Homo sapiens: one gene and its partners. The protein of the gene in region 6 interacts with the protein of the main gene of each other region in a pairwise test. Each region holds a gene or a part of one and is shown on either strand. Other genes may lie near its edges.

Region 1 (3,500 bases), on a different chromosome or scaffold from region 6:
CAGGAAGTTAAGTCAGGTGTTTTTTTGTTTTTTTTTTTTGAGACTGAGTGTAGCTCTTGTTATCCAGGCTTCCAGGCTGGAGTGCAGTGGCGCGATTTTGGCTTCCTGCAACCTCCACCTGCTGGATTCAAGCAATTCTCCTGCCTCAGCCTCCCAAGTAGCTGGGATTACAGGCGCTCACTACCACGCCCGGCTAATCTTGTATTTTTAGTAGAGATAGGGTTTTGCCATGTTGATCAGGCTGGTCTCGAATTCCTGACTCAGGTGATTCACCCACCTCAGCCTCCCAGAATGCTGGGATTACAGGCGTGAGCCACTGCGCCTGGCGGAAGTCAGGTTTTTTCCCAGTTATATAATGAATACGGGGTTTCCCCCTCCATACCGTGGATAGTGAGGTGGGATGGTTCCCTCGGTGGGGCCGTCCTGGGCACTGCAGGCTGCTGAGCAGCATCCCTGGCCTCCACCTGCTCTGTGCCAGGAACACCCCTAACTCTGACAACCACAGATGTCCCCAGACACAGCTCGGTGTCGCCTGGGGCAGGGTCGTCCTCAGATGAGGACGGTTGAACTGTGGCAGGTGAGGGGCCAGTGTGGCTGCCCTGCGCTCTGCTCCTCCCTCAGTCTCTCCGAGGCTGTACTGCCTCCAGCTGAGACAGATTCCTGCTGGGCAGGCTAATGGTAGGTGCTGGGCCCTTAGGACAGGGGAGGCCATTTGCCCAGGTCACCCCTGAGTCCATGGCAGGGCTGGGCCGGGCGCCCCCATTTAATGCCTAGCTTCTCGTGCCCAGCCGCTTCAGACCCACCGCCCCCACCTGCTGTGGGGCCAGGTTCCTGGGGCCTCCCAGCCTGGCCCTCACACCTAGTAAGGGTTCAGATCCAGCCGAGCCAGGCTTGGCCATGGAGGCCTCTCTGCCTGGGTGACCCAAGGTGGCGACCTCGTCTTTCTCAGCCTCGTCTTCCTTGTCTATGTACCTGGGTCAGCACAGCCTCCACCTGCACTGGGTCCCTGCTGCAGAGTGCTCAGAGCCAGCCACACAGTATAAAAAAATCAGTTTGGGCTGGGCACGGTGGCTCACAACTGTAATCGCAGCCCTTTGGGAGGCCAAGGCAGGTGGATCACGAGGTCAGAAGATCGAGACCATCTTGGCTAACACAGTGAAACCCCGTCTCTACCAAACATACAAAAAAATTAGCCGGGTGTGGTGACGGGCGCCTGTAGTCCCAGCTACTCGGGAGGCTGAGGCAGGAGAATGGCGTGAACCCGGGAGGCGGAGCTTGCAGTGAGCCGAGATCCTGCCACTGCACTCCAGCCTGGGCAACAAAGGGAGACTCCGTCTCAAAAAAAAAAAAAAAAAAAAGTTTGGTTTTCTCCTCAGAAAGCTTCTGGACATTTCTTTTTCTTTTTCTTTTTTTTTTTTGAAATGAAGTCGCTCTGTCGCCAGGCTGGAGTGCAGTGGCGTGATGTCGGCTCACTGCAACTTCTGCCTCCCAGGTTCAAGCGATTCTCCTGACTCAGCCTCCCGAGTAGCTGGGACTACAGGTGCGCACCACCACGCCTGGCTAATTTTTGTATTTTTAGTAGAGACAGGGTTTCACCATGTTGGCCAAGATGATCTCAATCTCTTGACCTCGTGATCCACCCCACATCTGCCTCCCAAAGTGCTGGGATTACAGGCGTGAGCCACCCTGCCCATCCCACATTTCTTTTTCTTATGTCGAGATATGATTTGCATACCATAGAATATACAGTTTTTAAGGGTGTCATCGAGTGGGTTCTCGTGGATCAGTAGGTATCGCAGCTCCCACCACTGCCTAGTCTCAGGGCAGTCATGTCCATCCCCAGCAGCTGCCACCCTTCATCCACTGGCCCCCACGCATCCCCTCCTGTCTGTAAATGGGTCTGTCCTGGACATTTCATAGAAGTGGAATCACATACTATGTGGCTTTCGTTTATTATTATTATTTAAGACAGAATCTCACTCTGTCGCCCAGGCTGGAGTGCAGTGTCGCGATCTCAGTTCACTGCAATCTCCGCCTCCCAGGTTCAAGTGATTCTCTTGCCCCAGACTTCTGACTAGCTAGGATTACAGGCGTGCACCACCACACTCAGCTAATATTTGTATTTTTTTTGAGACAGAGTCACACTCCGAGGCCCAGGCTGGAGTGCAGTGGCACGATCTTGGCTCACTGCAAGCTCTGCCTCCTGGGTTCACGCCATTCTCCTGCCTCAGCCTCCCAAGTAGCTGGGACTACAGGCACCCGCCACCACGCCTGGCTGATTTTTTTTTTTGTATTTTTAGTAGAGACGGGGTTTCACCATGATAGCCAGGAGGGTCTCGATCTCCTGACCTTGTTATCCGCCCGCCTCGGCCTCCCAAAGTGCTGGGATTACAGGCGTGAGCCACTGCACCTGGCCTAATTTTTGTATTTTTAGTAGAGACGAGGTTTCACCATATTGCCCAGGCTTGTCTCGAACTCCTGACCTCAAGTGACCCACCCACCTCCGCCTCCCAAAGTGCCAGGGTTACTGGCGTGAGCCACCTGCCTTGTGTGTCCTTTCGTGTCTGGCGTCTCTCACTGGGTGGGACATCCTCACGGTGCACCTGTGCTGAGGCCTGGGTCTGAGCCTGGCTCCTTTCCATGGCTGGGTCGCGTCCCGTGCGTGTTGGTCCTTCGGTCTACGGAAGGACACTCAGGATGCTGCTAGTTTGTGGCTGTTGTGGTCAGTTCTGCTGTGAACATCCACGGATGCGTCTTTGGGTAGATAGACTTTTTCCTCTTCTTCTGGGGGCGTTTCTTGTTAAAGTTTATCCTCAGGTGTTACTGGTTTTTGTTTTTTTTTTTTTGGAGAGTGTTTCTCTTTGTTACCCAGGCTGGAGTGCAGTGGTGCAATCATAGCTTGCAGCCTGTGCCTCCATGGGTTCAGACGATCCCCCTGCCTCAGCCTCCAAGCAGCTGGGACCACAGGTGTGCACCACCACGCCTGGGTAATTTTTTGTGGAGACAGTTTCACCATGTTGCGCAGGCTCGTCTCAAATTCCTGGGCTCAAGAGCTCCGCCAGCCTTGACCTCCCAAACTGGGTGTTTTCTTGCCATTGTGAGCCAGCTGCTAGATTCCCGCATGCACGTTTTAGCTATGTTTCTTCGCAGGGAGAGGCACCTGGCTGCCCTCTCTGGTTCAGGGTTTTGCTGTGGATTCTGTTGCATTTTCCAGGGAGGCCAGCCCCTCTCCTGACCTCACAGCCACTCCTCTCACCCAGCCCGTACAAAAGAGTCCTGGGCCTCAGTTTCCCAGCTCTGGGGGAGGGAGCCTTGTGGTGTGGCGGTCTCCACCTTGTCGGGTGGGCTGGGGTCACGCCCTCCTCACTCAGCTCTCCTTTCCTTTCCTCTGGTTTGCTCCACACCCACAGGGAACTGCAGCCCGGAGTTAAAGCCGTGCAGGTCGTCCTGAGGTATGCCCAGGTGTGCCCGCGACCCCAGGGCTGGACCCCCAGCCACCC
Region 2 (2,999 bases), on a different chromosome or scaffold from region 6:
AGGCTAATTGTGTTAATTTGACACATTTTTAGAATTATCTTGCTTTTTGAGAGTAGTGTTTTTGGAGGGACAACTGGGAGAGTAAACAAAAATAAGGTACATTCTCTGTTCTTAAGGACTTTATAATCTAGTCACAGGGAACAACTTTTAGGCAGTGCAGTATAAGACCAAACGTGTTACATACAGATACTTATTGTGGAGGAATTTAGTGACATTCATGCGGTTATTTATTTATCACAACACATGTTATATGTTGCAGTACAGCAGTAAGACAGACACAGTTTTGATCCTTACAGAGTTTAACACTTAGTAAAAGAGGCAGACACTAAATTATTTTTGATAAGTGTCATGAAATAAAAATAGAGTTTACATATAACATCTTAAGTTGCCTATTTTGTATCATTCTTTAATTACAATTTAAGTTTTGTTCAGGAGGTCACTGATAAACACATTATCTTTTTTTCCCTTCCAAGAATCGTTTGGGATTTTAGCATGTTTGTTAAGATGTACTCTGCCGAATGCGTCTGATAGTGCAAATTTATTTATTTTTTGTGTGGTACAATGTCATTGTGTGTAGGCAATTTTTGTTTGTTTGTTTGTTTTTTGGGGTAAAGGTAGACTGAAAATACTCTTATGGTTTACTTTGAATCTAAGTCCATAAACAATGTAATGCTATTGGCTTACCTCTTTTTTTTTTTTTTGAGACCGAGTCTTGCTCTGTTGTCTAGGCTGGAGTGCAGTGGCACGATCTCATCTCACGACAACCTCCGCCTCCCGGGTTCAAGTGATTCTCCTGCCTCAGCCTCCCGAGTAGCTGGGATTACAGGCACCCACCATCATGCTTGGCTAATTTTTGTATTTTTGTAGAGACAGGGTTTCACCATGTTGGTCAGGCTGGTCTTGAACTCCTGACCTCAGGTGATCTGCCTGGCCTGGTTTACCTCTTTAAACAAAGATTTATTTGACTGGTGAACCTTTCCCTCTGACATGGAAAAACCTTTGTTTCTTTTCTTACCCAAAGGGCAATTGTTAAAATAAAGGGTTGAATCTAATCAGTGGCTGTTTGAAAATAAAACTTTAAATTTATGTATTCTCTGTTCAGTTTCCTTAGGGACTTTGATGCAAATATATCTCCTACCTTTATGTATCTTTTATCCTAACTATGATAGGTTTATTCACACTAAGTATTGTGGTTTCTTTTTTCCTTCAGAGATTTACCGCATTGTTTCTCAGAAGCAAATGTCAGACAGACGCGAAAATGACATGTCTCCAAGCAACAATGTGGTTCCTATTCATGTTCCACCAACCACTGAAAACAAGCCAAAGGTGCAGTGCTGTCAGAACATCTAAGGCATTTCTCTTCTCCCCTAGAAGGCTGTGTATAGTCCATTTCCCAGGTCTGAGATTTAAATATATTTGTAATTCTTGTGTCACTTTTGTGTTTTATTACTTCATACTTATGAATTTTTCCATGTCCTAAGTCTTTTGATTTTAGCTTTATAAAATCATCCACTTGTCCCGAATGACTGCAGCTTTTTTTCATGCTATGGCTTCACTAGCCTTAGTTTAATAAACTGAATGTTTGGATTCCTCAGTTATTGTTTACTTTTCATCATGGAAGCCTGTCACTGTATGTAGGACATAATAGAACTTGATCACTTGAAGCTCAGACCTATTGGTCTTGATCAAATCAAACTAAGAAGACCTTAGAAATAAGCTACCATTTTGCCACAGAGCAGCTTATAGGTAATACACTCTTCTCTCAGTGCAGTGTACATTTCCACAAATCTAAGAATTGCCCTATAAACATAGCAGGATTTTGAGAGCTTGAAAATTTTCCATTATTCTGGACATGAATTTCTAAAATGCCTTAATAGGTTTATGTAGTTGAGTAAATTTTGTTTTTTAATTTTTGTAAGCATCAAAGTTGATTAGAGAGGGGGGCACTTTTTCTGGAGAATTCTCTTAGTAAACACAAAAGATTGTTACGGTTTCATTAGTAGTATGGTTGTGGGGCCATAAGTTAAACAGTGCTGCCTGGTAGGCTGGGAACTGAAGAGACTTGTGGTATTCCATCTCGGGTGCCTCTGTTGGCAATGATCAGGCAGCCCAAAAGATTTAAATGATCTATAATAATTTCCAAGCGGTAGATTATGTGGCATTTTATTGCTCAGGCAATAATTGGTTTAATGCTGGTAGTGTCAAATTTTGAAGTGTTAATTTTGTCTTAGAACCTTCCAGTAAGTGAAATACAACCTAGTTTTATCACCATATCCACCAGCAGGCATGGATAATTATTTTAACAATGCTAATATTTGAGTTTTGCAGTATATTATAGAATATAGTCCAGTTAAATCTTTGGTTTCAGTATGTCTGAAGAGTACAGTGAGAGGTTAATTTCTGCTCAAGTGGTACCACTTAAAGGCATGTATTCTTTTAGTATGTAAAATGAAATAGTACCTTGAGTTTAAATAGAATGCATTTAGGCATTGTAGAGATCTGAAATAGTTTTCTTCCACTACATTGTTGAAATCAATGAAGCAATTAGTTTCTCATTCAGAAATGTGCACACTAATATTTAGTTTTGCTTTCTCGTGGATAATATTAAGCACTTACTCTGCAGTTTCCTGGAAGTTGTGTCAACTGCAGTGATACTATTCAGGATGGTGGGAAATCCCCAAAAATATGTATGTGTGGGCTTGCTTAGATTACTATATTTCATAGTTAATCTTTTGTCTCTTGCGGTGCTCATGATGTGTGGGGCACACGGAAGGCATTGCTGTAGTCAGTCATTTTGGTTTTCTTCTATAGCCATTTTATTATTTTAGTGTATTAGTTATGAAGATAATATTATCTATTTGTAAATTGCTACTTTGTATTTTATGCATGCTCTGTAATTTGATTTTTTTTTAGTTATTGATTTGGATTATATTCACATTCTAATAAACAGTTATAGGGGGATTATTTCTTATGCTGTCAGATTACATTTTTCCTTTGAG
Region 3 (2,152 bases), on a different chromosome or scaffold from region 6:
AAACTATTAAGTCTCGGGCTTGCTCCTCAGTTTTTTCAAGCCGTCCTACTGCAAAAGGTGAAAAGCTTTTTCACATGCCACCAGAGGCCCTCTAACTTTGACACCTGGCTTTCCATTGCCTGTTATTGTCCTTGGCTGTTAAGTATGCTTCTATAGAACAAAAATGGCTTAACAATGGCCATTCAACCCTGTTATCCTCATAGCTACAATTTTCTCCATACATCTAAAATGTGAGGCAATCAGATATTGTCTCTCCTTGTACAACTACCCAATCCCTATTAAATGCCAGTGTTAAGTTGTAACAACTGGGACTTGTGACAGGACTGTCCTCCACCTATCAATGATGGGGTCTGGGCTGCTTATCTTTAAGTGTATACCACACAGTCTCTATTACCTATTTCCATATGTGTGAAAACTGAAGCAGTTTGTAAAAAAATTAGAATGCTTTCCAAAACAAACTGAAAATACAGAACAAAAAATTAAATATAATGTCAAAAGTATTTAAGTGAAATAATAGATTTATTCAAAGAGAAATAAAATGTCCTGGGTAAAGCTTCTGTAATAATACTATTTCTGATACTGTATCTCTGAAAAATGGCTAACTAGTCACCTTATCAATACATTTAAGGCATCAATAATAGGTACCACTGAGGACATACATTGTGAAGAAAGAGAAGAATAAGTCAAATACTAAAACATACTTATCATGACAACTCAAGGTGACATGAATATTTAATGAAAATTTAGAATATAACAACATATGACTCTCATTCTGTGGACATAAAAGGAAAAATACAGTAATTCATTTTACTCATTACATTTTACAAAATCAGCCCAATGAAGCAGTATTTTTTAATAAAAACAGTAATTTAATTTCAAACAAATATATTACCATCCTATTCCTTTATCTTGTATATATGTATCTAATTGGCAAAACATACTTTACTGAAATCAGTAACAATCCAATCCATGATACTTCAATTGCTTCGATCAATAAACATCTTAAATTTGAAACTCATTTTTCTTATGCCATAAGCCTGATTATCAGTTCTATAAAAACGCTACACCCTATTGCTTGGCCCATTAAGTGTAACTAGTCTTCTGCACAAGGCTAAGTGGCTAAGGTACTTTTGAACAACCACACACAATTCATCAAGCACACACACTCACTCCTGCTCCTCTCACACACGGCCACCAGAGCAGCTCCCCTAGTTCTCTTGTTCCTCATAGTGAGCATAGCCACTAGCATAGGTCCTTCCTAAATTCAAATTAGTAAACAAATCTGATGACTCAGTATCTGAATCCTTTCTGCCTTCATCTTCTTCCTCTTCATCATCCTCTGCTTCATACTCATCCTCCTCCTCATCGTGGTAGCTGGTATCACCATACTTATCAGATGAAAGGTTCTTCCAATAAGCATCATACCCAGAAGCTCCATCTCCCTCTTCACCTCCAGTCTGCCTGCCAAATTTCAGGGAGCGTGCTATAGAAGACAGACAAGTACAAGGCATTTTGTTAGTTCCAGTTCTCTACATTCTCATCTTCCTCTATAAAATTTCATGGATTTCATTGGCTGCTTCAATCCCAAATGAAAAAATAGGTCACATTTTCCTAATTTTTTCACCTGAGTCTATATACAACACCATAAAAAATAAAAATTACAGTGTAATTTCATTAAATCTAGAAAACAAATTAGACCAACAGACCACTCCAAAGGTATTAAGGCATGTTTAAAACAAAAATACCTTCCGTTTGGCCACTGACAGTTTATTTTCAAATCACATAAATCACAGAATACAGCTGATTTCGTATCAGTACATTTTTCTTAAGACAGCTATTTTACAATGCAGATGCCCTTAAAAACAAAGCCTGTCATTTCTTCTGCCTTAATAGTGACACAAAGTTCAGTGCAGAAGATCAGCAAAATCATCAGTCTCACCTCACCATGCAACTACATCTGTGATTAAACAAAGCAGTCAGTCACTTAGAATTATGGTTCCATTCTGATATGTTTGGTTAAGAGTCAAACTTCTCTTTAACAAAATTGCGAGCTGCATTACTATAAGCATGCTTATTCCTTCACAAAAAAAGTTACATAAAAACCATAAAATAATTTCCTATAGTAGTGCTATATTACATAAATAAACATAGG
Region 4 (3,500 bases), on a different chromosome or scaffold from region 6:
CTCTGGTTAAAGCTAGTAAAAGATTTCTGAGCAAATGAGACCATGCCTAGGTCAGTATGTCCTCCCTTTTTAGATGTGGACATAGTGAAGGGTAGGTTACCTCTGCTCCCAACCCTCTCTCCCCTAAAGACCCTGGATTATTTAATGAGAGCTGTGGAATCATAGCTTCAGATTTGGCCTTTGTATTAGCGGCCATATTCTACCCCTATTTGTACTGCCAACTGTAACTTGCCTGAAGTAAAGCTGGCAGAAATAGGAGCTTACAGTTGCAGTGGAATAATTGTTCCAGACCACACATGTGTTTGTGTATTCACCTGTTTGTGTTCCCCCATCCCGTATTCCACAAAGGCTTTGTGTTTATTCTTAAGCTAAAAAATGCCCTCTTCTCTTACCCATCCCTTTTCCTCTACACAGCTTGGGCTTAGGTTTTAACTTCTTAAAGCCCTTCCTGATGACCCTAATACACACAGATCTCTCAAGCTTCCATGTCTTTGGAGCACGTCATCTGTAGTGTACTTTGCTTGCCTAGCTTTCACAGTTGATCGCTTTGGCCTGTCAGTATAATGTTTACATATAGCAACCCTCACCGATTGATGCTATACCTGAGAATCAGAAAGTCAGCAAAGAAGACTTCTACTAGAAAAACATGTTGTTACAAACTTTGTGTTCTTCTAGCCTTCCTTATTTACTGGATATTTATTCAGGAACAGTATAGCATTATACTGTCCACTTTTTCTTAGCATTAAGCATGTTATAGCATTAAGACCACTTGTTTTTGTGTCAGACTTCCTGGATTCACATTCCACTGCCACCACTGACTAGCTGCTTGACATTATTCAAGTTAACCACTTTGATACTCAATTTCTGCATCTGTAAAATGGGGATAATACTATCTGCCTTATAGGTATCATCTTAGATAATGTGTGTACGGGACTTACCATAATTCCTGGCATATTCTAAGTCCTCAGTCTTAGTCATCCTCAGTTCAGCACATACGGTTTTGCTGTGTTGCACCTGTTCTGTGCAAAGTACCATGCCAGACACATTATTTATTTTTATTTTTGTAGAGATCGTGTCCCACTATGTTGCCCAGGCTAGTCTCAAACTCCTGGGCTCAAACGATCTTCCTGCCTCAGCCTCCCAAAGTGCTGGGATTATAGGTGTGAGCCACAGTGCCCTGCCTGACACATTTTAAATGGTGTTTTTTCATGCTTGGGGATCTGTTTTCCAAGCATGGCAGACTAGAAAGAGTAAATAAGGGAGAGGAATCATTCATATACCCAATGTTTACCCATGATATACTTTGTGCCAGGCCAAGTGATTGCTAGATGCACTGCAAAATATGTCTGAGACCTGGGACATTGTACGTGGTCTGTCAGAATTAGCCCCTCTCTTCATACATGTTCTGTTCCCTTACAGAGTTTATAGTAGTATGATACGTCTGTGTAACAGGCCAACAAAAAGGAGACAGAGAAAGCACACAAATTTAGCATAATTTATCCTACCTCCCGGCTGTTTGAAGCTATTAACATAGGTGTATATAGCCCTATATACCTATGTAAGCCCCAAGCATCAGTTTACTGTATCTTTGTGCTATGATTTATGTTTATTATGACTGTTAGCCATCAAATAAAGATTAAATTATGTTCAATATAGCTTGTTAGTGAAAGAAGAAAAAAAATATAGTTTTCTATCCAAAATGGTTTAAATATAATTTTTTTACTTAAAAGGATAAGCAATAGATTATCTAGAAAGCACAGTTATCCAGAATGTCTAGGCTTACAGAGGCTCTGGATTGCATGGATTATACTTTATATAATACTAACTCATTTTCTGATTGTTTAATGGATGCATGCCTTCGGTCTATACCTTGGGAGCTTGGGATAGGCATTCTATCAAACTTCTTAACTTACAGTATTTTTTAGTTCTGGGCACGTAGCGGGCACTCAGATTCTCATGTAACAAGACAGTTTGCTATGTTTAGAGTTATAGTGAAATACTGATTTCCAAGAAAGAAACTCCTGTATAAGAATATTGTAAGATTTGGTTAAAAGTAAATTCTATCAACTAAAAGGCCAAAAAGATCTGAGAAAAGGAAATGTTAAAACCAATCATGGCCAGGCACAGTGGCTCACCTCTGTAATACCAACACTTTGGGAGGCTGAGGCAGCTGGATCACTTGAGCCCAGGAGTTTGAAACCAGCCTGGGCAACATGCTGAAATCCCATCTCTACGAAAAATACAAACATTAGCCAGGCGTGATGGTGTGCACCTGTAGTCCCAGCTACTCGGGAGGCTGATGTGGGAGGATTGCTTGAGTCTGGGAGGTTGAGGCTGCAGTGAGCCAAGATTGTTCCACTGCATTTCAGCCTGGGTGACAGAGCTAGACCACGTCCTCACACCACCACCCCCCAAAAAAAGAAGAAAAAAGAAAACCAGCCACAATAGCTTCAAACTGTAAATTGAGTTATGAACTAAATACTGATGTATATGAATGGAAAAGTAAAGTGAAATGTACTTCTTAGGGTTCAGAAGCACAGAGAAACTAAACCGAAGATCACAGTTGAGGAGATTATGTTATGGTTTAGGAATATTTTATGCTTAATTTCTCAAGCATGAGAAGGGTGAATAAGAAAAGAGGAAGCCAAGGAGACTTGCTGGAGAATCTGAAAATTTATAGATAGTAGCAATGAATGTGGCTTTAAACTAATTTTTATGCTGCCATTTCATTGGGGGAATAAAAGAAAAAGAAAACTATTCCAAAACAGATATGAATTTCCCAAGATGTGAAAATGTTCTGAAATAAGGAATGAAGCATGAAAAATTTTGAAAAATGGACCTCATTTGGAGGATAATAACAGATTCTCCCAAATGTCAGAAAATATGGCAAGTAATTCATTGTTGTAAAGAAAGCTTCCTAATATTTATTTAAGGACTTTGGTTTTTTTTTTTTTTTAATTAAAAAAAAAAATTTAAGAGACAGGAGTCTTGCTAATGTTGTCCAGGCTGACCTTAAACTCCTGGGCTCAATTGATCCTCCTGCCTCATCCTCCTGAGCTATTGGGACTGCAGGCACATGCCACCATGCCAGGCTAGACTTCTTCCTCTTGTTAGTGTTATTATTTTTTAAACAGTGATTAGCATAACCATTCTATTGAAATGGTCCTTTATTCATTCCCAGAATGGATCTGAACCTTGGAGATTATAATGGCGTGACAGCCTTTTCTCATGCTGACCTTTTTACTTTTGCCCACTACTGTGCCAGATTTCTTTTGAAAGTGCCTATTTTGAGCAAAATGATTTTAACATCTTAAGGAAGAGGGCAACACTGACCATGTAAGGATTGTAGAATGGAAGGGCCTGGAAACAGATCTTGTGGATTTGAATTTGTCTGATCTAAGTTCCTGCTCTTCTAAGAGAATGCAAAAACAAGATAAAATGCAACTATCCACTAGCATAGCAGTTTTCTGGGTCTTCCACTAAACTATCTTAATTAATTA
Region 5 (3,500 bases), about 69 Mb from region 6:
GCAGAGCAGCAAAGAATATGAAGACTTTTAAAGCTCATGGTAAGTTTTTTGTTTTTTTTTTGAGACAGAGTCTCACTGTCACGTAGGTTGGATTGCAGTGGCACAGCCATAGCTCTGAAACCTCAAACTCCTGGGCACACGCCACCAAGCTCAGCTAATTTTATTTTATTTTATTTTTATTTTTTGGAGATGGAGTTTCGCTCTTGTCGCCTAGGCTAGAGTGCAGTGGCATGATCTTGGCTCACTGCAACCTCCACCTCCCGGGTTCAAGTGATTCTGCTTCCTCAGCCTCCCAAGTAGCCCAACTAATCTAAAAATTTTTTGTAGAAGACTGGGCGTGGTGGCTCATGCCTGTAATCTCAGCACTTTGGGAGGACGAGGCAGGTGAATCACGAGGTCAGGAGTTTGAGACCGACCTGGCCAACATAGTGAAACCCCGTCTCTCCTAAAAATACAAAAAATTAGCCGGGCGTGGTGGTGGACGTCTGTAATCCCAGCTACTCGGGAAGCTGAGGCAGGAGAATCACTTGAACCCGGGAGGCGGGGGTTGCAGTGAGCCGAAATTGTACCGTTGCACTCCAGCCCGGGCAACCGTGCGAGACTCCGTCTCAAAAAAAAAAAAAAAAAAAAAGAAAATTTTTTTTTTGTAAAGACAGGTTTTCACTATGTTGGCCAGGCTAGTCTTGAACTCCTGGCCTTAGTGCTGGGATTACAGATGTGAGCCACTGTACCAGGCCCTAAAAGTTTTTTGTTTGATTAGTTTTTAATTTTTTTTAGATCATTTAGATCTAATCAAAAGTGGCCTGCCAGTTGCTACCTAAAAAAGAGCCTTGGCCTGGCACAGTGGCTCATGCTTGTAAACACTTGAGGGTGGGGGTTCAAGACCACCCTGGGCCAAATAGCAAGACCTCATCTCTACAAAAAATAAAATTAGCTGGGCGTGGTGGCATGCACCTGTAGTCCCAGCTATTCAGGAGGCTAGGGCAGGAGGATCGATTGAGTCCAGGAGTCTGTGGCTGCAGTGAGCTATGATCACACCACTGCACTCCAGCCTGGGTAACAGAACGAGGCTTTGGCTCTTAAAAAAAAAAAAAAAAAGAGCCTGGGAGTGATGGAAGACTATCCTGAATTACAGTTACCCTTCTTTTAGTTTTGATTTATAGTAACTACGTATTAAATTAGGGAGAATTTGCAAGTCCAAAATCCAGCTGATCAAACAAGCATCTTTTAAGAATACTGCCTGGAACCTAGGTGGGGAAAAAGCATGTTTGGAATTACCTTGCCCAAACCAGACAGTTCTGCAAAAGATCATCCATTGAGCCAGAAAATCTTAAGCTTATAGTAGATGCCTTGTCCATATTTATATGTTGTTTTGAAAATCAAAATCAAAATAAACCTTGTTAATTACTAAGAACAGATAATGATCTTTAGAAAATTAATTGATTTTATATGTAGATATGTATCTTAGTGATTCATCTATGATAGAACAGTGAAGACAAACCCCAGTCCCAAATGGGATCTTCTGTTTTTGCATAATATGAATTAATCATGAGATGTGCCTTTCCTCCCAACATTTTGATGTCTCTGATTGGGATTCCTCTTAGAGTTGATGGTATATTAACAATTGCTATCAGCCAGGTAGCAGTAGTAATGTATTTCACATTGCCTGCAAATGTACATACTTGGTTGTTTCTCCTAGTAGCATACTGGCCAAGTGTAGTCTCTCAGTGTTCAACTAACAGATCAATTTTGCCACCATTTGAGAAAGGAATATCAGTCCTGGTTGTTGTCCGAAAACCTTCTTTTGACACCTGGTGAGATGTCAAATGACATCATCAAAATTTGCTGAATGAGTATCAGTTTCTTGGAAGAAAATATTAGGGACAAAAATGGAGTACTTCTAAGAAATACTTACCTCCTCATGGCACAGAGAATGATAATGTATAGGAAAACATGCATATTGATGACTCTCGAGTTGAAAAGTGGTTCATGGGCCCGGTGCGGTGGCTCACGCCTGTAATCCCAGCACTTTGGGAGGCCGAGGCGGGCAGATCACAAGGTCAGGAGATCGAGACCATCCTGGCTAACACGATGAAACCCCGTCTCTACTAAAAATACAAAAAATTAGCTGGGTGTGGTGGCTGGCACCTGTAGTCCCAGCTACACGGGAGGCTGAGGCAGGAGAATGGCATGAATCCGGGAGGCGGAGCGTGCAGTGAGCCAGGATCACACCACTGCACTCCAGCCTGGGCGACACAGTGAGACTCTGACTCAAAAAAAACCAAAAAACAAAAAAACAAAAAAGAAAAGTGGTTCATAAGATTCGAACTCTGTGAAGTTTTAGAAATAAATTTATGATGCTTATATTTGTTATGTTTACATGAGAGCTGTATATGATAAAATTCTGTGTGAAGGTCTGTTTTCATAAATATAAGGTAAAAAATTCAAGACATAAGAAAACCTTAAATCATAGCTTAATTGCCAGCATTGTTTTGTTTGAGTAGTACAAAAATGAAAATGATGCATCTTACAATGGATACCATCGTAGATTTGATGAAATGGTACCATATTGATTCTATTTTTTAAGCTACTAACTTTAAACAAACAGCAATTATCCAGTGTTGAAGTTGATATTGTTAGCTTAAAATAGGGAATCTGTTTCAACTTGCTTTGCGCTAAGAAGAGCTTTTAAATTTAATTATGCTACAAGTTTTTACATAAATATGTAACTCCTTGAATTGGAATTACCCATTTTTAGAAAAAAAAAAAACAAAACAGAAACGAAGCGGCAGATTTTTTTTAAGAATGGCACTAGCCAAACAAGATTTCCTGATGCTTTCTTTTTTACATCTTAAAATAGCACTATATGGAATTGTAGTGGAGTGTTTGAAAAATATTCTGTCAAATCTAAATCTCTGAGGCCTGGGGAAGTGGAGGACTGAAAATAGGGACTTACTGGCATCATGATTTTGTGTCCTTTCCCCTTCTTTATACTATATTGACTTAGCTTCCTCCTCTGAAAATAGGAAGCTAAGGAATAAGTTGATTTAAGAAAAAAAAATTTTTGGCCATGTGTGGTGGCTCACACCTGACCTGTAATCCCAGCACTTTGGGAGGCTGAGGTAGGAGAATTGCTTGAGCCCAGGTGTTTGAAACCAGCCTGAGCAGCATAGTGAGACCCTGTCACTACAAAAAATAGAAAAAAAGTAGCCAGACATGGTGGCACATGCCTGTAGTCCCAGCTACCTGGGAGGCTGAGGTGGGAGGATTTTTTGAGCTCAGGAGGTCAAGGCTGCAGTGAGCCGAGATCATGTTACTGCTCCAGCCTGGGAGAAGAATGAGACCCTATCTCAAACAACAACAGCGACACCCACAACAGTTTCTAAGGCTGAGGCATAAATTATTTTTAGAATAAAAATATATCTTTTAGATTTTAAGCTGCAGTTATCTCCAGTAGTTATTGGTATTTTCATTCTTCCCCTGGGCCTTTGGGATGTAAT
Region 6 (2,637 bases):
AAACTTAGGGGTCTGGCTCCCAGCCTGCTCTCATGACCCCTCTGCATTGAGGCTTTTTCTGACCTCCTTCCCTCTGTAGGCAGAGGCCCCCAGTATGGTTGGGCAGGTTGTGAACTGCACAACTCTAGGGAGCACCATTTCCATTGCAGTTTCTGAGACTGGACTGTTTGCGGTGTTGTCTGGCGGATGAGGGTTAGTGTCTCAAGGAAGGGACGCCTTCATACAGAAGTGCTGTATGCACCAGCCCTGACATTATAGCTGCTCTAGAGAGACACTGGACCCCTGTGTACCCTCTGCCCTACAGCTCAGCACAAATCATAGTGCTGCCCTGTCTGCAGCAGGACCCACCAGGAACCAGGCCCAACACTCAACTCCATGCAGGTGATAAGAGCTCATCATTCTTGAATAATTGCCACGTGCTAAGCAGGGCTCTAAACCGTTACTGGTTGCCTTGTACAATCCTCACAGTCCTCAGGAATAGGTCTTTTGTTCTCCCTTTGTCTGGGTAGAGAAACTGAGGCTCAGGGAGCTTGGTGACTTTCCTAGTTTGCCTGGTTGGTAAGTGGCAGAGCTTACTGCCTACAAGGGCTGCATCTTACCCACCGGGTTCCCACATCCCCCACTGTAGTCCCCAGGGCTCTCTGTTGGCTGCTGTTTGGGAGAATGTGGCATGCAGGGGTGAGGCAGGGGGTCTTCTGAGGGCTCAGTTCCCAGGGAAGTTCCTCTCAGGTGCCAGGACCCTGTGGCAGCAGGGAGGGAATTCAGGTGAGGACAGCATGTTGTCCAGCTTGGTTCTATCTCATCTGCCTGTCCTTCCCAGGGTGTCACCATGACCAGAGATCTGTGTGGCCCCACGTCACCACCTGTGGCCTTTGAGATGAGTCTTGGAAGGTGGGCAGGAATGCCAGAGTCTTCATTGGATGAATGAAGAAATTGAGGCCCAGAAAGGACCATTCAGGGCACCCAGTGGGGTGGGAACTGTCAAGGCAGGAGCCTGAGACTCTGTCCCCTGGGCTGTGTGACTTGGCCTCTTTAAACCCTTGCCATGGTCTTGCCAGTCCAATGGGGCTGGCTCATCCTGGTTCCCTGGCCAGTGAGATGCTGGGTGACCCCAGGGCTGCAGCCTGGGAGGCGTGGCACTCTGTGTCTGCAGCTTTCTGCTTACCCCTGCCCTGGGCCAGCTCCTCTGCTCAGAAGCTGTGTGCCCAGCTGCAGCTGGGGGCAGGTGTCCTGCCCAGGAGCACAGGTGTCAGCTTTGACTGCCAGGGCACATTTATCCCATTTCCTCACTGGCACAGGGCCCTGTGACACACACACCCATCCAGGCCTGTACAGGAGGCTGGGGGGCTCTGCTGACTGGGAGTCCAGGTCATCTGCCATTGCCAGGGCAGGGGGCTGTGTCAAGACCTCTGCTCCAGCCTCAGGGGCCCTGTCTTGTCAGTGACCTGGACCAGGCCCTCAGCACCCTGAGCTTCAGTTTCCTCCTCTGACAGGCAGGGCAGTTGGGCTTCACCTAGTCTGGAGATGTGCTGAAAGCACTGCCCTGTGCCTGGTGCCACCACCACTCTGTGATGTGAGTCGGAGTTCCTGTCTCCTCCTGCAGGCCCTCCTGCCACCCCCTGTGCCTTGTCCAGAGCATGTTCTGCTGGGTCCTTCTGCTCTTCCACCCACAGGGTCAGGGCGCCAGGGCATCACCAGCCCTTACCAATTGCTGGGTGGGAACTGCTGCTCTGGGCACCGCCTCTCGCTGGGTGGCCCTGGTCCACAAAGGGGTGTTGGGCCTCGTGTCCCTGTGTGTGTGTGTGTGCGTGAGTACATGGGGGCATGAATTTGTGCCTGTGTGTGTGTGTGTGTGAGTATGTGTGGGCACATATTCGTCCGTGTATGTTTGTGTGCCTGTATGTGTGGGCATGTATTTGTCCGTGTGTGTGTGCGTGCATGCTTTGGGACTGCTCCTTGACAGTGTCTGCCCCCCTAGGGCTGCTTGCTGTGCCCACTCTTGCATTGAAATCCACCTCCTCAGCACCTACCATATACCAGGCATTGGGCTGGTCATGGGAAGACCACCGGGAACCAAGACAAACATGTCCTTTGTCATGGAGCTGACAGTCTAGTGGGACAGACTGACAGTCATCAAAAAGTTGAAGATAATTTAAAATCAAAACAACAGCAAGAATGAGGAGAGAGAGGTGTGTAATGCCACAGGAGCCTAGAATTGGATGCAGTCCTGGAGGGATTTCCTAAGGAAGTGACATTCGAGCTGAGCTCTAAGGAATGGGTAGGAGAGAGCAAGGAGGGGGAGGGAAGAACATTCTAGAAAGAGGGAACAGTATGTGCAAATGGCCTGTGGCAAGAAGGACCAAGGAAAGGTCAATGCAGGTGGAGCACAGAGCGGGATAGTGTGTCGTGGGAGGGGTAGGTGGGGTGGGAGGGACCTGCTGCCAAGCCAGGGGTGGAGAGGGCCTCAAATCCCTGAGGTTGGTGGCAAGCAGTCCAGGCCCTCGATGCAGCTTGGGCTCTTGACTGTCACATGAGTGCCTGCTCCCAGGCCAGCAGGGCCAAGAAAGCGAAATGTCGGGAGCCACCTGAACTCCCAGATACACTTTGCAGGGTCAATCTTTATTTGGGCCTGCCTTA
Region 7 (3,500 bases), on a different chromosome or scaffold from region 6:
TGGGAAAATACTTTATAATTTGATACGATGAGGAAGTATAAAGTTTCTTTAACACTGTGGTGTAAATTATTTGCCCCATAAAAGAAAAAGTTAAATTCAGTCCATTTAAGTCAGTAATCACTCAAGCACTCATCTATCAACCTGGAACTTGAATTGGTTGATATCTAAAAGAAAAGAAAATACAAACAGATACTAAAAATAAGACTACTGAGCAAGCATCTTAAAAGTAACAAAAATACATTACTATTAAATGAACTCAACAAAAATGTTTGTTAATACTTTATTAGTATTTTCTAATGGACAGAACACAAACCAAATAAATTTTTTAATCCTTTTAGTTGAATAAAAATAACTGACATTCTGATTGTTGTTTCTTCTTTGTTAAAGAAAGAAAGTATTGATAGAACAGTTAGGCACACAGTTGACACTTACTGTACAATGATATGCACACATTATCTTTTAACAATTATAATCCTAAAATGTGCTCTTCATATTTTTTCCCTTGTAATACAGGAGCCATGCTCCTAAAAGCAAAATTTACTACTAATAAAAGAATTTTCCAAGGAGTGACAAAAAGACTTTTAAAACAAGTCCTTAAATAAAAGGATGCAGCAACAACGGAATGTAAGTTGTTGGATTAAGAAGACAGTTTAAGCTACATCTCAAAAAATTAAAAATTCATTTATCTTACAATTACTCAAATACACATGCATTAAATGAAAATATTGCACAAAATTAAAATTTTAGATTGTGAAATTTATATCATTCTTAATTTTTATAAAAATTGGTACACTTTCTGGTAGCACTTAACTGATTGATTTTTCTTCCCAAATACCAGCAGCACAAACTTAAAATGAACAAACTGAAATATTCAAGAAAGTTTTTGTTTTTTTTTTTTTTAAAAAAATTAAGGCTAACCAAGTGCATCCATTGGTCAATGGCACAATTGATTTCAGCAACTATTTGGAATATCCTAATTATAGGAAATGCCCATCTAAGTGATATATTTAAATAATACAATCAATTTTTTAAGGTGAATAAACTATGATGGTTTCTAAATAGTGTACATGTTACCTGAAAAATCAGAAAACACAAAGAATGATTAATTTCGAAAGTTCTTGCCTAAAGGCACCACTGACTTAAAAAACATTCAAAATCAAATACCAGAAGACATAAAGCCTCTTCATGTATATATTCATATATGCAATAAATGCATTAAATGTAACTTTATTAAACATAGTACACTGTACTTGACTTATGGTTAAATATTTTACACACAGCTTGACCAAGTCATTCAAAAAGTTATCTCTAATTTTAGCATGACCACAGCTCTTTCTGATGTAAAAGACAGATGTGCATAGAGAAGGTGCACCACCATTTACAAAGACTATCATTTGACATTTTCTGCTTCTGAAATATAAACTCTTCTAAACAAAAATTACTTTAAAAATCCATTTACTCAAATAGTTTTTGGTATGATTGCAGTTATCTTGCAGGGCTCTATTTTGAAAATTTGCAATATTACATGACCTTTATTTCCCTAATTGATGGCCAGTGCTCCTCACATTATATAGAAATGCTTTTTCACATGTACACGTTAGGGTCTTACATGAATTATTCTGTATACTGTTAGATTTATTCATGTCAAAAATATATTTGAAATGGGCAGAGGCATATATGAAAATCACTGCACTTATGGCCATGCTGATGCTTCCTACAGACATGTTTCATGTTTCAAACATTTTCACTTTTAAAGCCTGGGGCTCAGGGAGGGGCCAAGGCAGGGAGACACCCTGAGAAGAAGAAATACTATTTCTTCCACCAGAGCCACTAAGGATCTTTTCTCACTTGCAAGTTGCAATGAAAGGGATTTCATTTTATGTAATTCTGAAGACATGCAACATATGCTGAATATATGCATACTATAAGTATGCACAACAGCATTATTAATAAATATGATTATTATAAAGCTTTAAAGGAAGGCTTTATTCTGTTAATAACCCTCACTTTGTAAGTAGGATCTAAGTGAAAACAAGACAGTGATATCTTGTTCCAATCTTAAAGCTCCCAAATAACTGGGATACCAATACTCTGTCCCTTTATCTTAAGCACCCAGACTTTCTTTTAATACCAGGATCTTGGCTCAGTGGTCTGATAAGTAGCTTCATTATTTTAAGGTTTTAGTGTTAAATATTTTTAAAACAAAAAAAGCTGACACACCCAAACCCTTAGGCAATGAAAGTATTTAAAACTATGCAGAAATCCTGCATAGAAGGGATGTGAATACTTCTAAGATGGATAAAATGGACAGTCAGAAAACTATAGGAAATACAGAAGCTCCAAAACTAGAGAAAGTATTTTATTTTATTGATATAAAATTAATTTATGGGTTTAAAGGTATACACTGAGGGGTCTTGCCTACTAGCTTTATTTTGTAGAACTTTACATTATGTGAAATATAAATAAAAGCATATTTTTAAAAATATTATAGTTCTTTTTTCATCATTTATTTTCATATATGTACACTGTCATAGAATTAGGAATCTGTATGTTTACTATGACTAATAAGCTCATTAATCATTTAATTTGCTATTTCTGCAGTTACCTAAGGCATGTCTAGATCACACAATTAAAAATTATCATATGGTAACTTTCCAGACTACTATTTAAATTTCCATATTTTTAGAAGGACAAAATGTATTTGGCAGTTCTTCCAATAAATTATATCTTCTGTATAATCAGTAATCTGTTAAAGATAAAACTAATAATTTTGAAATTTAAATGAGAGCCACCACATGCTTCTTTTTGCACAAAGAATGCCAAAAGGAAACATAAAATTGAGTACCCTAAGAGCAAAACACAGCCCTTAAAGCACACATAAGAATAAAAATTGTTGTATACCAATGAATAACAAATCCAATCAAATTCTGTGTTTGATTGGTTTTATTTTATACTCAGCTTTATTTTATATCACAAAACTGTAATTCAGGTATAAGGTTATTTCACACTTTAAGGGCATTCTGTCTCTTTCTCCAGACCTGAAAGAGATGTTTCAAGGATCATTCACCTGGCTAATCCACAATATATCAAAATGCTGACAGACCTACAAAATCATTATGCCAAACAAACTCCTCCAAGTCGTACATTGCACAGTCTCCAACTGTTAAACAAATTAGCCAATTTATCTCTGAACCATTGTTTTGTGCTTTCCTTAGCTTTCATATATACACTCTGGCACTTTGTCATTGCTGGAGAATGCTGATTAGTTTGAAATGGAAGAAACCAACGCCATTCTTGCTTGAGATGGGGGCAGTTTTCTCTCAATGTTGCAAAATATGCACCAAATCATTTAAGACACAGAAATCTCTCTTGGTAGTGGTGGATTATAGATGAGAATGAGAAGAACCACAGACTTATGGATGTATTAATAATCTATTTTGAGACACTAAAAGACTGGTGCAGACACAACAGTATTTGAGTTAAGCCCCAGAAGATCTGTC

The links.
Region 1: the proteins of KLF15 (region 6) and PIAS4 interact in binary tests that used the Homo sapiens proteins (3 or more experiments, as listed by UniProt).
Region 2: the proteins of KLF15 (region 6) and RAB11A interact in binary tests that used the Homo sapiens proteins (3 or more experiments, as listed by UniProt).
Region 3: the proteins of KLF15 (region 6) and ZNF330 interact in binary tests that used the Homo sapiens proteins (3 or more experiments, as listed by UniProt).
Region 4: the proteins of KLF15 (region 6) and ANKS1A interact in a two-hybrid assay, tested with the Homo sapiens proteins (one large-scale study listed by BioGRID and IntAct).
Region 5: the proteins of KLF15 (region 6) and APPL1 interact in a two-hybrid assay, tested with the Homo sapiens proteins (one large-scale study listed by BioGRID and IntAct).
Region 7: the proteins of KLF15 (region 6) and SNX13 interact in a two-hybrid assay, tested with the Homo sapiens proteins (one large-scale study listed by BioGRID and IntAct).

What each region holds. Positions count from the first base shown.
Region 1 is NC_000019.10:4,024,736-4,028,235, forward strand, and holds part of PIAS4 (E3 SUMO-protein ligase PIAS4), read left to right. Parts: intron 1-3,410; coding exon 3,411-3,452; exon of another isoform or gene 3,453-3,454; coding exon of another isoform or gene 3,455-3,462; intron 3,463-3,500.
Region 2 is NC_000015.10:65,886,491-65,889,489, forward strand, and holds part of RAB11A (ras-related protein Rab-11A), read left to right. Parts: intron 1-1,210; coding exon 1,211-1,350; 3' UTR 1,351-2,999. UniProt on the Homo sapiens protein: The small GTPases Rab are key regulators of intracellular membrane trafficking, from the formation of transport vesicles to their fusion with membranes.
Region 3 is NC_000004.12:141,233,046-141,235,197, reverse strand, and holds the end of ZNF330 (zinc finger protein 330), read right to left. Parts: intron 1,484-2,152; coding exon 1,209-1,483; 3' UTR 501-1,208; downstream 1-500.
Region 4 is NC_000006.12:34,892,255-34,895,754, forward strand, and holds part of ANKS1A (ankyrin repeat and SAM domain-containing protein 1A), read left to right. Parts: intron 1-3,500. UniProt on the Homo sapiens protein: Regulator of different signaling pathways. Regulates EPHA8 receptor tyrosine kinase signaling to control cell migration and neurite retraction.
Region 5 is NC_000003.12:57,230,729-57,234,228, forward strand, and holds part of APPL1 (DCC-interacting protein 13-alpha), read left to right. Parts: exon of another isoform or gene 1-36; coding exon of another isoform or gene 37-39; intron 40-3,500. UniProt on the Homo sapiens protein: Multifunctional adapter protein that binds to various membrane receptors, nuclear factors and signaling proteins to regulate many processes, such as cell proliferation, immune response, endosomal trafficking and cell metabolism.
Region 6 is NC_000003.12:126,344,772-126,347,408, reverse strand, and holds part of KLF15 (Krueppel-like factor 15), read left to right. Parts: intron 1-2,637. UniProt on the Homo sapiens protein: Transcriptional regulator that binds to the GA element of the CLCNKA promoter. Binds to the KCNIP2 promoter and regulates KCNIP2 circadian expression in the heart. Is a repressor of CCN2 expression, involved in the control of cardiac fibrosis.
Region 7 is NC_000007.14:17,790,495-17,793,994, forward strand, and holds the end of SNX13 (sorting nexin-13), read right to left. Parts: 3' UTR 267-3,500; downstream 1-266. UniProt on the Homo sapiens protein: May be involved in several stages of intracellular trafficking. May play a role in endosome homeostasis. Acts as a GAP for Galphas.